2 separate regions of the Homo sapiens genome follow, and region 2 is linked to region 1. Evidence: fine-mapped expression QTL. Tissue or cell type: putamen. Region 1 holds a variant in brackets; the other region holds the start of a gene. All regions are shown on one strand. Distances are between the middles of the regions.

Region 1 (8,000 bases):
ACTGTAAGGAAGTGGCCCTTCCTCTGTTTGGAGGAGGAGCTGGGTGCTGGAAGACCGGGGGAGGGGCTGTGTGAGCGCTGGATGAGCTGATGAGGGTTTCGGGGGCCCATGGGTAGGGTGCTCAAGTGACAGGAAAGGTCAGTGGCTGTCTCAGGGCAGAGTCTGGTCGGGCCCAGTGCGTGAGGTTTGCAGCGTGCGCGTTTTAGGCAGCAGGATGGCTTCTGTTAGGGGTCCGTGGTTGCAGTGTGCCTCTCCGTGGCCGTGGCTGACTCGCAGAGAGGAGCTCCCGGGCAGGCTGCTGGGAGGGTGTGCCCGGGATCCACCCGAGGCTGCTCTGGGGGCCTGGCTGACAGAGTGACTGGGACCTCTCCTTCCAGGGGTGCAGGTAGCCTCCTTGGCCAATGTCGGGGTCCCCGTTGCTCATTCAGTGGTGCGGTGCGGGCTCCCTGAGTGGGGCTGGGTGGGGCTCTCACAGCATTGCCAGCGCCTGCTTTCTATGTGGACCTGCGCTTGGTCCATGACAGGTGAAGAGAAGAACAAGGATGGGTCCTCGGGCCTGAGCTCACATGCCACTGGGTCAGTCTAGCCAGGGAGCCTTGGCTTTGTGCCCCAGGTTGTGAGGCTGGGAATGCTCACACACCACTGGCGTAACTTTGCATGCATGGCTCAGATCCTTGCTGTGTCCTCCGGAGTCCCAGCGTTGAGTTAGAAGATGTGGCTCGGGCCGAGCTCAGCTGTTGCTGATCATCGGGGTGCACTTTGAACTTTGAAGCGGCTGTTTCACATTGGAGTCTGAGTTTCCTCGTTTAAAAAATGGAAACGGTGAACAACAGGGTTGCTGGGGCATTCACTGAGACAATCTGGAATCGTCCTGGAAAGTAGAAAGCGCTACACCTGGAGATCGCTGATTTTACTCTTGTTGTTATATGTGGGTCTTCTGAAGGAGAGGTGAGGAAAGGAACTTAAAACTCGCTGAGCACCTCCCCTGTGCCAGGGGCCTGGCGGGTGCTTTTTAAACATGATTTCGTTTCCTCTGAAGAGTGACACTGTCAGGTCGTGTCTCTGTTTCTACAGGTGAAGTAAAATCGGGGCTTTCTAAGGTCATCTCCCCGGTGTTGCATAGGGGTGGGGGCTGTGGTTGACCCCAGGCTGTAGTGCGTGCATGCTGCCCTGGACCTGGGTCCACAGAGTTCACACATCCTGGGTCCCAGAGCATCAGCTACAGAGGTTGCTTTTGGCCTTCTGTTTTGTGTGCAGAATCAGGTTTACTTCTCGGGGACAGCTGGAACTGAGTGTGCCTTGTTTATCCTGCAGGACTCCAGAAGACCTTTCCAGATTCGTGGTTGAGCTGCAGCAGAGGGAGCTTGCCTTGAAGGACAAGAACAGCGCCGTCACCAGCAGGTAGACCTGGCCGCCCAGGGTGCTTGTGGGGATGCGTTTGCTTTGGAGAGTTAGGGGTGAGTGAGAGTGTGTGCCCCCTGGCTCTTGGGGGATGGCTGTCCTTCATCATGTGGTTGGCCCTGGTCTGGGAGGAGATGGGGGAGCAGGGATTTGAGGGAAGGGTTTGCCCCATGTTTCCACCATGTGCTGTGAGCCTCCGCTGAGGCACCACCGTCCATCGTTCTGACAATGTGCTAAACTGCCATGGGGTCTGGGGGTTGGCCTCCTGTTGTGGGGTCCCTCCTTGGATCAGGAGGGTTCTTGTCTTCCCAGCAGGGTTGGGGCCTCATGTGGTCTTGGGAACCAGCCCGTCGGTCACTAGCGGGCCCACCCTGAGTCTTCACGTCAGCATGAATGCAGGCGTGATTGGAAGGGGCTCACTATGAATACCAAGAGACATGCCCCTCACTCAGGAAGTCCCAAGGGCTTCAGGGAACCTGGGATGACGATCAGATATGTATTTCTTCTTATCCCACAGCCCGGCTCTTCTCTGGTTTCGCTCGTGGCTGTGAGGGGCCATCCAGGCTCCGGCATCACACCCAGAGGCGGAAATGAGAGGCCTCTTTTTTGGATCTTTTCTGTACAAGAAAGCGTTTCCTAGGACCCCCACTGCCAGCAAGGGCCCCTTATGCCTCCTTGGCTAAGAAGGGGTCTTATGCCTGCCCCTGACCAGAAGGTGGAGCTACCATGAGGGACTGAACCCCATCCGGTGGGACCTGTGGGGCTGGTGGGCAGTGGGGTGGGCTTGCGGCAGAGGGAAGGGCCGTGCAACGGGGCCCCAGGGGAGCTCTGCGCCCTGCACGGCTGACCAGGCCGTGGGTCTGTGCGGAGGGCCTGAAGCTCACCTGTTTGCCATTGATGATCAAGCTCAGCCTTGTCCTCCTGTGGAGAGAGTGTTTTAATAATTTATTAATAGCCAGAAGGAGGTTTCTTATTTTGGGGGCTGATGTCACTTTGAAAATTGGCTTTTAGAAGCATCTGGTTGTGTTGGACATAATCACATCAATTTACTGAAAAACCTCAAATGATAAAGATTGCCTTTTGCTTTCAAAGCCGCTGTCAGATGAAACAGGCATTAAAAGTGATTTGAAGTTAAAGCGTTCACACTTTACCAGGCGATCCTCATCATTTTACTTTGGAAATGAAACAGAATGAACTATTAAAGGAAAGGAAAGTTGCCTGTACTTTTCTCCCACCAAACAGGGAGGTGCTTCCTAAAATTATTTGCCTTGACCAGCAGCAGCAGGCCCATCTCTGTGTCCAGGGCCACACGGAAGGGAACATTCGCATCTGCATGCTGCCCATGTTGCCTTCGCTGTGGTCAGAGATGTGGATTGAGCCCATGGGGGGATTGGTTTGGGAATGGGGTCTCTGTCTCAGGGAGCAGCCTCTACAGTGGGCAGGTGGTCCTCACAACCCCAGCTGTGGCTGGCCTCTCAGGACCTGTGGGCTCCCTCTGAGAGCTGGGGCACCCGCCCTGGGGAAGGGTGAGTCTTGGGGCATCCCATGGACGCGCTTGGTGCTCCGTCCTGTTCTGTGAAATGGGGTCTTGGGGGTGAGACGAGGTCCTCAGTACTGCGCTGGTCTGGGAGGCCAAAGGGAGAAGCTGCCCTGAAATCCTGGGTTCTCACAAGCGTTTCCAGCTTGCTTTCATGTGTGTGTCTGTATGCTGGCTTCTGTCCCACGTGTGGCTTATTGCCCTGTGTGGGCTTCTTTAGCCAAGGTGCAGGCTCCAGATGGCGCTGGTCACCCGTCGCCAGGAGCGCTGGAGACGCTTCCCTGAGATGGGGCAGTGGAGAGGCGCAGGAGGCCTCTGGGCGTGAGGTTGGAGCTCCCGGTCCCTCTTGCCTGCAGGTCCTGGGGGGCGGCTGGTC[T/C]GCTCCTTGCTGGTCATGTGACTTGGGCAGGCACCTGGTCCTCTCTTCATCTCTGTGAGCTGAAAGGTACTGGCAGTAACGACTGGGTTGCTGTGAGGTCTGAGCCTCCTGAACTGCGCCTGGGCACTGAGCCGTCCCCGGGTCTCAGTGCTGCTTGCTGGTGGGTGGACACTTCCCGACCAAGGCTTTCTGGGGCCTGGTGACGCTGAGTGCCTGGCCCTTTTGTGCACTTCCAAGGCCCAGGAAGGAGGCAGACCCTAGGACAGGCAGCGCTGGCAGTGGCCAATGAGGTGTGGATGAGTCCCGTCGTGGCCTTGGTGCTTGCGTTCTGGCCTCTGGGCTGCTGCTCTCTTCCGTGGCGGGACACCGTGTTCGTCGCGGCCTGCCGTGGCGGGGTCAGGGAGCCTCGCACGGTTGAACAGCTGAGCACATTTCTACAAGTCTCTTACAGGCAGTTGGACAGAAATTCAGATGAGCGTGAAGGAGGCGGCATGGCAGAAGATGGGAGGCCACGGTGGCCCAGATCCCCGAGGGCTTTGCCAGGCGGGCCTCATTTTAAAGTCACTTTTGTTTGTTTCTCATTGAAAGTAGCTTGTAGTCACTGAAGAACAGAGCCCTGGTCCAGCTGAGGTCACGGGTCATGAGAGCAGCTGCTGGGCATTTTCCCTCGTCTGTGCGGACCAGCGGGCACGTGCTTGTGACCACGTATGTTCTCCTCTGCAGTTTTTACCAAGTATGTTGGCCGTGTCCATCTTTCCCTGGTAGTGAACGCTGTTCTCGCCATCTGAGGAGCTTCTCAGGGTGCGGCTCCACTGCCCTGTTCCTCGTAGCCCAGTGCCCGGTGCTCCCTCTTCGAGGCGTTGCCCTGTTCCTCGTAGCCCAGTGCCCGGTGCTCCCTCTTCGAGGCGGTGCCCTGTTCCTCGTAGCCCAGTGCCCGGTGCTCCCTCATCGAGGTGGTACCCTGTTCCTCGTAGCCCAGTGCCCGGTGCTCCCTCTTCCAGGCGGTGCTGCTGTGACGGTGCCGCTGGGGTAGCTCACGTGGCAGCATCTCGGAATGCTTGTGCCTCAGGCCGAGCTTCTGAAGTGACGGCTGGGTCATTCGTGTGCCTGTTTTCAGGAGCTTGGCTTTTAGAAGATGAATGTTGCCTATCAGCCGGCGTAGTGTGCCGCTGTGAGCAGCCTACACCACGCAGTCTTGATGCACTTCCTGGGTGTTGTGTAACTTTCCTTCTCTGCTGATCTGATGTGCGGAACAGAGCGCCCTTCCCACAGTCGCTGTCTTGGTGACTTGGTGTTCCTTTCACCAACATGACACATGTCCACGTCCGTGAAGCCAGAAGCCAGCAGGTACCTCAGCAGGTCCTGTGGGTCGGGCTCCTCTGCGGAGTTCCTGCCGTTGCTGCCTTTTTAAAGTTTGCCTCAGTTTCTCTCCATAGTTACTGCAGTAGCATTCCAGCCTGTTTCAGGGAGGATCCTGGAGCTCTCCCACCCAGAGGAGTTCCAAGGTAGGGAAGGCCGCCCAGGGAGGGTCTGATGTCAGCTTGCCGTGCAACCTGGTGCAGGAAACAGATCATCCCGCAGTGAGCAGATGCCGAGCCGGAAGCCATCACCTCCCTTGTTTGAGGAAGAGAAAATGACACCATATCTCGGAGTTAGCTGCTGGGCCACCAACCAGCCTGGAGCAAGAAGGAATTTTCCTAGCATTGAGCTATAGTTTTGACCCCTTTTACTGGTGAAGCACAGTTCCAAACGCTGCTGTGAGCTGGACTGAAGTTTCTGTCTGAATGTTTCTGCGCTCTTAGGACTGGAGGCTGGAAGCCCCACGGTGGCACCTGTGCTGCATTCTGGTCTTGGGGCTGGAGTTGGTAGAGGCAAGAAGCTTCTGGAACTCTCAGTGTAGGACTTACTGCTTTCCAGGGTTGCGAGGAGCCTGCTTGTTAGCTTTATGCGGGTTTGCTCAGGTGCTGCACTGGAATTCCTGTCTTACAGCAGAGAGAGTGTCTGTGGGGCTGCTTGAGGATTCAGCGGGATGACGTTGGTAACGTGCCTGGTGCAGCAGCTCTCGGCAGTCCCCGGGACGTGGTGCTGTGACGAAGGGTCCGGGGCTGGCTGTGGAGCCAGGAGCAGGCAGGGCTCTCAGTGGGCAGCGGGGCAGCCTACAGGGCACTGGCCGTAAGGCGCTCCAGGAGGGTGGGGTGCTTGAGTGCATTGCAGCCTGGGGGTTGGGTCAGAACCACCAAACCTTGCCTCCTGTGTGTTTCTCCCTTCCTTTAGCCGTGGACAGATGGGGCGTCATTGGTCACTGGTGTGAGCAGAGCGTGTCAGAGATCCTGGGCCTCTTTACCTTGGAGCAGGAGCTTCATGGCAGTGTAGGGGAGCCTGGCCTGGTTTACGCTCAAGCCTCGTTTCGGCTCTTAGAATCTGAGAATGGACCTCCTGGTTGTGGGGCTGAGGACAGGGCATACTGTTCAGAATCAGTGGGTGGATCTGGTGCGCCCTCTGCTCACGCTTCACACAGGGCACCCCGGGGCTGCCCTGTAGCCTCCCTTCCCTTTCCGGGCCCTCTTAGTCTCCTTGGCCCTTAGGGACCCAAGCACCCCTCTGCCTGGCGTCCCCAGCTCTGCCGTGGGAAGAGCCGGGACAGGAGGCTGCAGTCCTCTGTGGCCCAGCCCGTGGCCATGCTGTCATCTTTCAGATCTGGGGGGGAATAGGCCAGCGTGCTCTGAGGGCTCGTGAAGAACAGGGCTGGGAAGCTCGGGCAGGGATGCGTGGGGCCATGCTCTTGGCGGTTTCTCTGCTGTGCTGGAAATAAGACCGTGCTTTGGAGAGGGCTGGTGGCGGGAGCGGGGCCTCTCAGGACCCCGTGAGGGCTCCAGGGTTCAGGTGTATCATCTGTAATCCCGGCGATGAATGACGATGGGGACGCTGAGAGCAGTCAGTGTTTGTCTCGCATCTGCCCTCACCATGCGCTGCGCTGTGCTTCATGCGCAGCCTCTCACTTGAGCCTCACAGACGCTCCCAGCTGGAAGCTCTTATGATTCCCTCTTTTGCAGGGAGGAACTTGAGCCCCGGGCTAAACAGCTGGGAGGTGGTGAAAGCAGGACGTGCGTCCAGGCCTGTGGGTCTCCAGAGCTCTGTGGGATGTGTTTGCAGGTGGCTCCTGGGTCCCTGTGGGACACGTTGTGTGGCTGCCGTCTCGGCTTTGGCCTTGCTTCTCTGCCTCAGCAGAGACCCTGGGTCATGGATCCTGCCTGGTGCTGTTTTGCCTGTTTGAAGCCCCAGGCATCCTCCTCGATGCTGACTTAAGGTAGAGCCGGCTGAGAAGTCCACAGAGGGGAGCCCCTGAGGGCCGTGGATGCAGATGGAGCTCTTCATGTTGGGGTCTGCCCTGGCCTCCCCTGCCTCCCCTCTGTGCATCGGCTTTCCCAGAAGTGCATTCCAGCCTGGGCTGTGATCGCCGCAGTTTGTTTTGAAGATCCCACCTTGCTGCCTCCAGGCAGAAGAGCCCTTGGCCTGAAGCCACAAGGCTGGCATGTCCTGGAGCACCTGGCCGTGTGGTGCTTCCAGGTGCCTGGGCCTGGCCTGTTTCATCTACTGCTGCCATCAGGGGCCTGGGCAGCGTCAGGAGGAGTCAGGCCCTTGTCAAGCATAAGGGACTCGAGAGTCATTGGGTGTGATGAGTGGATATCACCATGTTTTCTGTCACAGACGGTGCTTTTCTGAGCCTCTTCCTGCCTCAGGTTTCTGTCACCTCCCAAGAGTGAGTGAAGATCAGTTTACTAGTTATGAGTCTTTCCTGCTGTTGGTCCCAGGTGGTTAGGCCGTCCTCTCAAGGACGTAACAAGGCCTTGTCACCTGGCATCTGAATTATGGTGCACTTGAGTCATCCAGAGACCAGCAAGGCATACGAGATCCATGGTGGCTGGGCTGTTCCCCTCTTGCACTTGAGGGGCCTCCCGCTGGAGAAGCCACCACTGGCCCAGGTTCCTGGGGCCTGTGTTTGCATTTGGCTCTACCAGGAGTGGCTCTCCGAGCGAGTCTTTCTGGTGATGGTGACTCCTGTTGGGGGTTTTGAGGCTCAGTGCAGTCGCCTCTATGGAGCCTGTGGACGGTGCTGGCTCAGGGTGCAGGTTTTTAGCTAGTCCTTGTCATCACTGGCACCGTGTCCTGCTGTCACTTTTTGAGGTAATGGGAAAGTACAATTTCTGGGAGCCTTCAGGGCATGGCAGGGGTAAGTTTTCCAGGGGACTCTGTGGGGCAGGATGTCTCCTGTGTGTGGCCAGTGGTGATGATCAGACGGGTTAGGCGGTGGGGGCATCTGGGAGGTCAAGGTGACGGAATTTGCCGTGGATCAGTGTGGGTGAGAGAGCACATCGGGATGGCCAGTTCTGGCCTGCCCTTGAACTGACCATGGCCTCAGCCATGTGTTCCCAGCAAGTCTCATGCTCAACCTGACCACCTGCTCTCGGCATAAGGGGGCCCCTGGGGTTTGACATGGCCAGAGGCCTTGTTGCGTCCGTTCGGCTTTGGCGCCACTCGATGTAAATGGTCTTTGGCAGAAGGTGTGGAATCAGCCTGAGTCTAATGGGCTGTCTCCATGTATTCCACGGTGGCAGCCTGCCATGCCTGTCTGGTCCAGGGCTGTGGCAGGGCACGCGCCAGGAGCTCTGGGTGGCACCGTGCCCT
Region 2 (8,000 bases), 95 kb before region 1:
CAAGAGTGTGCCATGGGTGAGATCCCACCTCTGGAGAAAAAAAGAGAAATGAATCGGAAAAGTAGAGCCCCCTTTTATGTAATAAGGGCGGCTACTGCAACTTACTTTAGCTGTACCTGCACACCTGAGTGTGTACACTCTATCAGAGTACAAAACGTATTTCTTACTGCAGGTTGTGATGAAAAAATTGGAAAGCCACTAGGCTGCAGCGTCCTGGCTTTCCTCCGTGCCAGGACCCTCTTTACTCTGTAGTTCTCCTCTCCAGGCAAGCTGGCCTACCTTTCTCAGAACAAAAACACGAACGGGGGCTAACGTCTGTGCAGCGATGTTTACACAGATGATCTCATTTACCCTGTGAGGGTTGAGGGGCGTCTGGAGGACTGTGTGATCTTGGGTAAACGGCTCAACCTCTCTGGGCTTCAGTTCCTTCCTAGGTGAAGCTGGCTGTGTTGAGGATGCAGTGAGGCTTTGTGCACAGCGAGTGTGAGATGAAAGCGATCATCAGCTCCACTGAACAGACAGAGGAACCAAGTGACTGACGAGCCCTTCGGCAACAGTGAGGGTGCTGGGAGGGTTCAATTCAAGCTGCTGCACAGAGGCTTCCAGATACGCCCTGCAGCCCCCAGCACCACCGCACCACAACAGCTAACACGCACTCAGCACGCACCGCACACCGCGCACCGTTCTAAGTCCTTCGAGTTCATTTCCTCATTTTATCTTCACAAGAGTCCGAAGGGCTGCGGACTGTTCTTCATTCTGAGATGAAGACACTGAGGCTCACGCTTAACCCCCTGCTCCAGGTCACTTAGCTCTTAGTGGTGAAACCAAGGGTGTGGCCCTACAGCCCGAATCCCTGTGCCCTGGGAAAGCCGGTTCTATGGCCAGACCTGCCCCATCCTTACCTCCTAGCCCCATCCTCGATGGTCTCTCCTTCTTGCACTTTGCCCCCAAAGCCATTCCACCGGCCGGCCCCGAAGCCTCGCTTTTTCATGCCCAGGAGAACTCGCTGAGGCTGCAGGACCAGCACCAGGGTATAGAGCCTGGAGGCGCCCATGGTCCCTGGGTTCTGAAAGGAAGGTGAGAGGGCAGAGTCAGCCATGACGTGCGTGGAGGAAGCACGTGCCAGGGGCCAGGAGGAAGGGGACGTGCTCTGGGAGGCAGTGGGGGGCGGGGGGGTATGCTGTAACTCCCCAGCCCTGCCACGTGTGGCTTCCCTTGTGGCAGGTGGAAAACTGCCATTGAACCAGTGATTTTCTGGGGTAGAAACAGAACCCAGTGGTCAGCAGGGCTGATCAAGCAGAGCAGAGGCCGGCGCTACCTTCCTTCTCCACAAGTCAGTACTCAGGTGCAGAGGACAACATCACCTTTCCAGAGCGTGCTCTTGCTCCTGCGTCTACCCCCAGGAACCCCCTGCTTATAGGCACACAGTGAGGAACAACAGTCCCCGTGCCTGATTGGCACCAAAATAACCACGCAGTTTATCCTGTGGTCCTCAGGTCAGGCCTTTGGATTAACAGGAACTTCTTTCAGTCTAGTGGGACCTGGCCTCTCTGTAGCAGGCTTCCAGATTCCCAGGAAATGTGTGGCTGTAGACACAGGTCCACCCAGCCAGGCCCGGCTAGTCCTCCCTCCTGTGATAGGAGTTTATACCCCACCCACTCTGCTCCTGCTGTGGCTACTGTGGGACCTGGCACCCAGGGGGGCCACTGGAAGTCACAAGGGTCCTTCCTGCTCCCATAGGTGTGCAGGTCCAGGTCCAGAGGACTCTGAGGGCGATGCCTCCGCCAGGTCCCTGCTGAAAAAAGGACCCTGGAGAAATGCTGGAGGGCCAGGACCAACTTTCCTTTATTTATTTTGAGACAAGATCCTGCTCTGTTGCCCAGGCTGGAGGAGAGTGGCGTGATCGCGGTTCACTGTAACCTCCGCCTCCCTGGCTGAAGCCATCCTCCTGCCTCAGCATCCCACATAGCTGGGACCACAGGCATGAGCCGCCACACCCAGCTAATTTCTGTATTTTTAGTAGAGATGGGGTTTTGTCACGTTGCCCAGGCTGGTCACGAACTCCTGAGCTCAAGCGATCCACCCACCTCAGCCTCCCAAAGTGCTGAGATTACAGGCGTGAGCCACTGCGCCCAGCCAGGACCAACTTTTCTGGGGTCCACACCTGGACAAGACACAGGGTTCAGGACCAGTGATCCTTCTTGGAAGTTGTGGTGTCTGAGAAAAGGGACCAGATGATAAGGAAGGGGGCAGGGAAGTGCTGGGTAGAGGAGGGCGTGGTCTCTGGCCAGGGCTCCACACCCAGGCCTGTGCCCAGGGACCTGGGTGAGGACAGGCATTTCTGTTTTTTTGCCCAAATGTTGCATTTCCCGAGCCCGCCACGTCCCCGTCCTGTGCCTATAAAAAAACCCCAGTGGTTTTTTATAGTGGGCAGAGACACAAGCCGCTGGACGTCAAGAGGACGTGGAAAGCACACCAACAGGCACCAGCAGGCCATCAACTGATGGAACCATGAGTTTGGCAGGGGCGGTCAGAGGAGAGCCCAGGCTGCTCAGCAGCCCGACTCCAGGGGAAAATCACCTTCCCACTCCAACTGCCTTCTGGCTCCCCCATCTGCTGAGGGCTAATTCCACTCATAAAACCTTGCACTCACTCTCCAAGCCGCCGTGTGATCTGATTGCTCCAGTACATCAAGGCAAGAAACCTAGGGATACAGAAAGCCCTCTGTCCTTGCGATAAGGCAGGGAGTCTAACAGCTGACTAACACAAGCCACCTACAAGGCTAAACTGAAAGAGCACCCTCTAACACATGCCTGCTGGGGCTTCAGGAGCTGCAAACATTCACCCCTAGACACTGCCGTGGGGTGGGAGCCCCTCAGCCTGCCTGTCTGTATGTTCCCCTAGAGGCTTGAGAAGCGGGGCACTGAAGAAGTGAGCCACATCCTCATCGCACGCCCTTCGAGGAGGACAAGGGAACCTTTCCCATTTCACTGAGACTGGGTCCTGGTGGCGGAGGCAGGTCAGACAGGGTAAATGGGTTTGTGGCTTAGTTTCACACCAGGCCCGTGTACTTTGTCCCGACACTGATCTGTTTCTGCCAGAAGCCACGGTTTCCAAAGTAAATTTTTGTGATTTACTCCTGGTCTCCCCCAAGCCTCCGCCCCGCTCTCCTTGTCTCTCTCCCAAACCCCCGGCCCCGCTCTCCTCGTCTCCCTCGAGCCCCCGACCCTGCTCTTCTGGTCTCCTTCGAGCTCCCGGCCCCGCTCTCCCCCAAGCCCATGGCTCAGCTCCCCTAGTCTCCTGCCGCCCGCTGGCCCGGCTCCCCTCCCTGGTCACCACGACTCCTGGAATCCCCGCGCGCGCTTTTCGTACCTGCACCGCCGCTTCCGGGGGCGTGGCCTCTGACCGGAAGTGAGGCCAGGCACTTCCGGCGGCGCGCTGCAGGCGCGGGGAACACCAATGGCGGGGTGAGCTGGGCGCTGCTGCTGCGCGTGCAGACAGCGGGAGTGGTTGGGGGTCCGCCCGGTCGCCTTCCTCGGTCCTGGCCTCGGGGCTGGGTGCCGAGCGCTGGGCACCGTCCCCGCACTCAGCGAGCGCGACAGGGGCGAGGCCAGGATTCCGGGTCGCAGTTCCCCGGGAGGAGGGCGCCCTCAGGTCTCCAGGGGCAGGGCCGGCGGGGCCGTGGGGAGGCCGGGGCCGGCGGCGGAGTCCAGGTGGGGGGCGCAGCGCCGGGGCCCAGATCCAAGGCGCCGGGGGCGAGCCCGGGGCGGGATTTCGCTTCTGGGCCGGGTAGCTCCATTGCCCGCGCTTCCTGGGCTGTCGAGTGGGCCCTGGCCCCCGGGACCGGCTTGTGCCATTTTCCCGGGAGACCCCTTAAGCGAGGGGAAGACAGCGACTCACGGTCAGCAGTCAGTGCCTCCTGGCTTGTCAGCACGCTTTGGTGTTGCAGAAGCTAGAAGCTTTGGCCTTGGAGCCATGAGGGTGGTAACTTTTATTTATTTATTTAAATCAGAAAGATGGACATAGAGACCGGGCTTGGTGGCCCACACCTGTCATCCCAGCACTTTGGAAGTCTGAGGCAGGAGGATCGTTTGAGCCTAGGAGTTCGAGACCAGCCTAGGCAATGTAGTGAGATGCCATCTCTAAAAAAGGTTTTTAAGAATTAAAAAAAAAAAAAAAATTAGCCCAGGCATGGTGGTGCACACCTGTAGTCCCAGCTACTCAGGAGGCTGAGGTGGGAGGTTCACTTGAGACCCAGAGGTTATGGCAGCAATCAGCTGTGATTGTGCCACTGCAACTCCAGCCTGGATGATAGCAAAACAAAAATGGCCGGGTGAGGTGGTTCACGCCTGTAATCCCAGCACTTTGGGAGGCCAAGGTGGGCTGATCGCCAGAGGTCAGGAGTTCGAGACCAGCTCGGCCAACATGGTGAAATCCCATCTCTACTGAAAATAGAAAAATTAGCCGGAAGTGGTGGCACACACCTGTAGTCTCAGCTACTCAGGAGGCTGAGGTGGGAGGTTCACTTGAGCCCCAGAGGCTGTGGCTGCAGTCAGCTGTGATCATGCCACTGCACTCCAGCCTGGGTAATAGTAAAACCCTGTCTCTAAAAAAACAAAAAGAAGAAAGAAATGCCTGGGTGCAGTGGCTTACACCTGTAATCCCAGCACTTTGGGAGGCCAAGGCGGGCAGATCAGCGGAGGTCAGGAGTTTGAGACCAGCCTGGCCAACATGGTGGAACCCATCTATACTGAAAATACAAACATTAGCCGGACATGGTAGCAGGTGTGCCTGTAATCCCAGCTACTTGGGAGGCTGGGGCAGGAGAATTGCTTGAACCCGGGAGTCGGAGGCTGCAGTGAGCTGTCACTGCACTCCAGCCTGGGCGCCAGAGTGAGACTCCGTCTTAAAAAAAGAAAAAGAGGACATAGAACTTCCTTGGTGAGGTTGTTGTCAGAGTTAAACAAGGGGAGGTGTGTATAGCTTCCACCTGCTTAGCTATTGTGGGCTGTGAATAAATTGTTACATTTATTGTAACAATTGTCTAGAGAATCTTGGAAATTGTCCTTCAACGATTGACACAGGTTTAGTTCAATTTTATTTAAGACATGTAGGTGAGAGGATTGTTTGAGCCCAGGAGTTCGAATCTGCGTTGAACCGTGACCTCACCACTGCACTCCAGCCTGGGCTATAGAGCGAGACCCTGTCTCGAAAAAAAGAAGAAAAAAAGAAATGTGACAGGCCAGACCCTCTGTACTAGCTGTCAAAGCCCTGGAACTAGGTCACTAAGGCAAGGATCTGTCCTTATGAGGTTTTCTTGCAGCCTGTCAGAGCCCAATGAACATTTTTGCCAGATGAGAAAATAATATTACTTTAATTAATTAATTGATGTATTTAGTTATTGTTTGAGACAGAGTCTCGCTCTGTCGCCCAGGCTGGAGTGCAGTGGCGCAATCTCGGCTCACTGCAACCTCTGCCTCCTGGGTTCAGGCGATTCTCCTGCTTCAGCCTCCCGAGTAGCTGGGTTTATAGGCATCTGCCACCACGCCAGGCTAATTTTTGCATTTTAGTAGAGACGGGGTTTCATCATGTTGGCCACGGTTGGCCAGGCTGGTCTCGAAATCCTGACCTCAGGGGATCCACCTGTCTTGGCCTCCAAAAGTGCTGGAATTACAGGTGTCTCCGAATACCCCCATATTCTGAGGTACCAAGGGTTAGGACATCAACACATTAATTTTGCGGGGACACAGTTTGGCCTGTGATGCCTGCTTTCCATCTGTGTAGCCTTATCAGTTCACCTCCCCTCCTGGGCCTTGGTGCCCCATCTCTAGAAATGAATGAGTTGATCCGAGGGCCCTCCCAGCTCATGACCTGCCGTTCTGTGTGATGCCAACCTGCCTGCTCCTCTTCTCTCCCACCAGGTACTTGAAGCTGGTGTGTGTTTCCTTTCAGCGTCAAGGGTTCCACACTGTTGGGAGTCGCTGCAAGAATCGGACAGGCGCTGAGCACCTGTGGCTGACCCGACATCTCAGGGACCCATTTGTGAAGGCTGCGAAGGTGGAGAGTTACCGGTGTCGAAGCGCCTTCAAGCTCCTGGAGGTGAACGAGAGGCACCAGATTCTGCGGCCCGGCCTTCGGGTGTTAGACTGTGGGGCAGCTCCTGGGGCCTGGAGTCAGGTGGCGGTGCAGAAGGTCAACGCCGCAGGCACAGGTGGGCCTCTGCACTGCTGTTGGCACCTTCTGGCTCCCCTGAGGCTGAGTGGGCATGGGCAAGCTGCCTTTGCCAGTGGATGCGGGATGGTGGAGCCCTTTTTTGAAGGCGTGTGCTTCCGAGTGGGTGGTTTAGCAATGGTGATGATAAAAATAGGATGCTGCCATTTTCAAAATGAAAGACAAGGTAGAAAGGTGCAGTGAACATGGAAATCACCTCGCATGAGACCGCCCGCAGGTACCAGCACCAGCATGGTGGTGTGCATCCTTCCAGGCTTGTGCATGCATAGATCCCTCACATTTTCAAAAGCGATGTTGTGCCATACTTTTCTTGCTAATTTGCAGCCTATTGGAGCTATTTTTGCTTAATGATACATACATATATGTATTATATATATATATATATATATATATATATATATATATATATATATATATATAATTATTATTGTTATTATTTTTGTTCTTCCCCCCCCTCCAGATGGAGTCTCACTCTTGCCCAGGCTGCAGTGCAATGGTGTGATCTCGGCTCACTGCAACCTCTGCCTACCTGGTTCAAGCGATTCTCCTGCCTCAGCCTCCCAAGTAGCTGGGATTACAGGCGCCCGCCACCGCACCCAGCTAATTTTTTCTTTTTGTTTTTTTAAGTAGAGATAGGGTTTCACTATGTTGGCTAGGCTGATCTCGAACTCTTGACCTCAGGTGATCTGCCCACCTCGGCCTCCCAAAGTGCTGGGATTACAGATGTGAGCCATGGTGCCCGGCTACTCTTAATGATGTATTGACATCTTTCCCCAACAGCACAGCTAAATTTCCAAGTCGCATAAGCCCTGGGGCTTTCCTGGTGGCCCCACTGGGGCTGCTCCGTCCGGAACCTAGAAGAGGCTTCATGGCCAGGGCTATGGATTCTTTGCTCTGGATGAAGCTGAGACACAGTTTTCATCTGTTTTGTATCTTAGGGTTTTGAGTAAGATTTTCTATATAAAAAGGTTCTCCTGAATAATGAGATCAGCCAACCGCCCATGCAACTGAAGACACTGTCGTCATTGGGAAAGTTTCATCCTATTCCATGTAGTGCTTGCACCGTAGGTTCTTTAACCAGCTCCCTCACTGTGGCATCAAGGTTGCTTTTGGCTTTTGGCTGGGATGCGTGTGCTGTGGTGAATATCCTTGCCATTTATGTTTCCTGCTGTAAAGCCAGGGTAGCTGCATGCACTGGCATTTGAACAGGGTGAGACAGTCCACCCAGAGCTCTCCCAAGTCTCTCCCAAATACCTTAGAGTAGGGACACTGGTCCCCATTTATTGGTGAGAAAACAGGCTCAGGGTTTCATGACTTGTTGAAAGTGCAGAAATGGAATGCTGGCCCCCTGGATCTGCACATCTGCCTCGCTGCTGGTTTGCGGTAGGTTTGCCATGAACTCTTGGTGTCTACCTGCATCCCCTTGGGTGGCCCCTGCCCATACTTAGGCGGGGATATGCCTCTTCGGGCTTTTCAACAGCATTTTTTTTTTTTTTTTTTTTTTTTGTTTATAGAGCCTCACTCTGTTGCCCAGGCTGGAGTGCAATGGCGCCATCTCGGCTCACTGTAATCTTTGCCTCCTGTGTTTAAGTGATTTCCGGCTAATTTTTGTATGTTTAGTAGAGATGAGGTTTTGCCATGTTGGCCAGGCTGGTCTCGAACTCCAGGCCTCAGGTGATCCGCCCGCCTCTGCCTCCCAGCATCCTCGAGGTGCTTCCTGGTGCTTCCATCGTGGTCAGCCTGAAAGCCTTTTTATTGTTTTTCAGCTC

Which allele goes with the higher level. Alleles are on the strand shown, and positions count from the first base shown. SD is a standard deviation of normalised expression in the study named.
With allele C in place of T in region 1, the expression in putamen of the gene that starts at base 3,403 in region 2 is lower (large effect, 1.4 SD a copy in GTEx).

What was found. PIP is the estimated chance that this variant, and not a neighbour inherited with it, causes the effect.
Region 2: NUDT1 starts here. The variant in region 1 is fine-mapped to the expression of NUDT1 in putamen (GTEx, PIP 0.96).

Annotation. Positions count from the first base shown.
Region 1 is chr7:2,142,553-2,150,552 of GRCh38, reverse strand. MAD1L1 (mitotic arrest deficient 1 like 1) reads left to right here. Exons shown (of 19, transcript NM_001013836.2): 11 at 1,315-1,401. Among named protein-coding and RNA genes, the nearest start is that of SNORA114, 58 kb to the right of the region's middle. RefSeq lists a silencer at 2,994-3,180. The variant T/C (reference allele first, on the strand shown) is at 3,315.
Region 2 is chr7:2,237,629-2,245,628 of GRCh38, reverse strand. It overlaps NUDT1 (nudix hydrolase 1), which reads right to left and starts at 3,403. Exons shown (of 4, transcript NM_002452.4): 1 at 3,373-3,403; 2 at 903-1,066. The coding sequence starts at 1,054. It overlaps MRM2 (mitochondrial rRNA methyltransferase 2), which reads left to right and starts at 3,424. Exons shown (of 3, transcript NM_013393.3): 1 at 3,424-3,467; 2 at 5,922-6,211. The coding sequence starts at 3,460. RefSeq lists a silencer at 3,498-3,717 and enhancers at 4,040-4,891, 7,930-8,000, 7,615-8,000.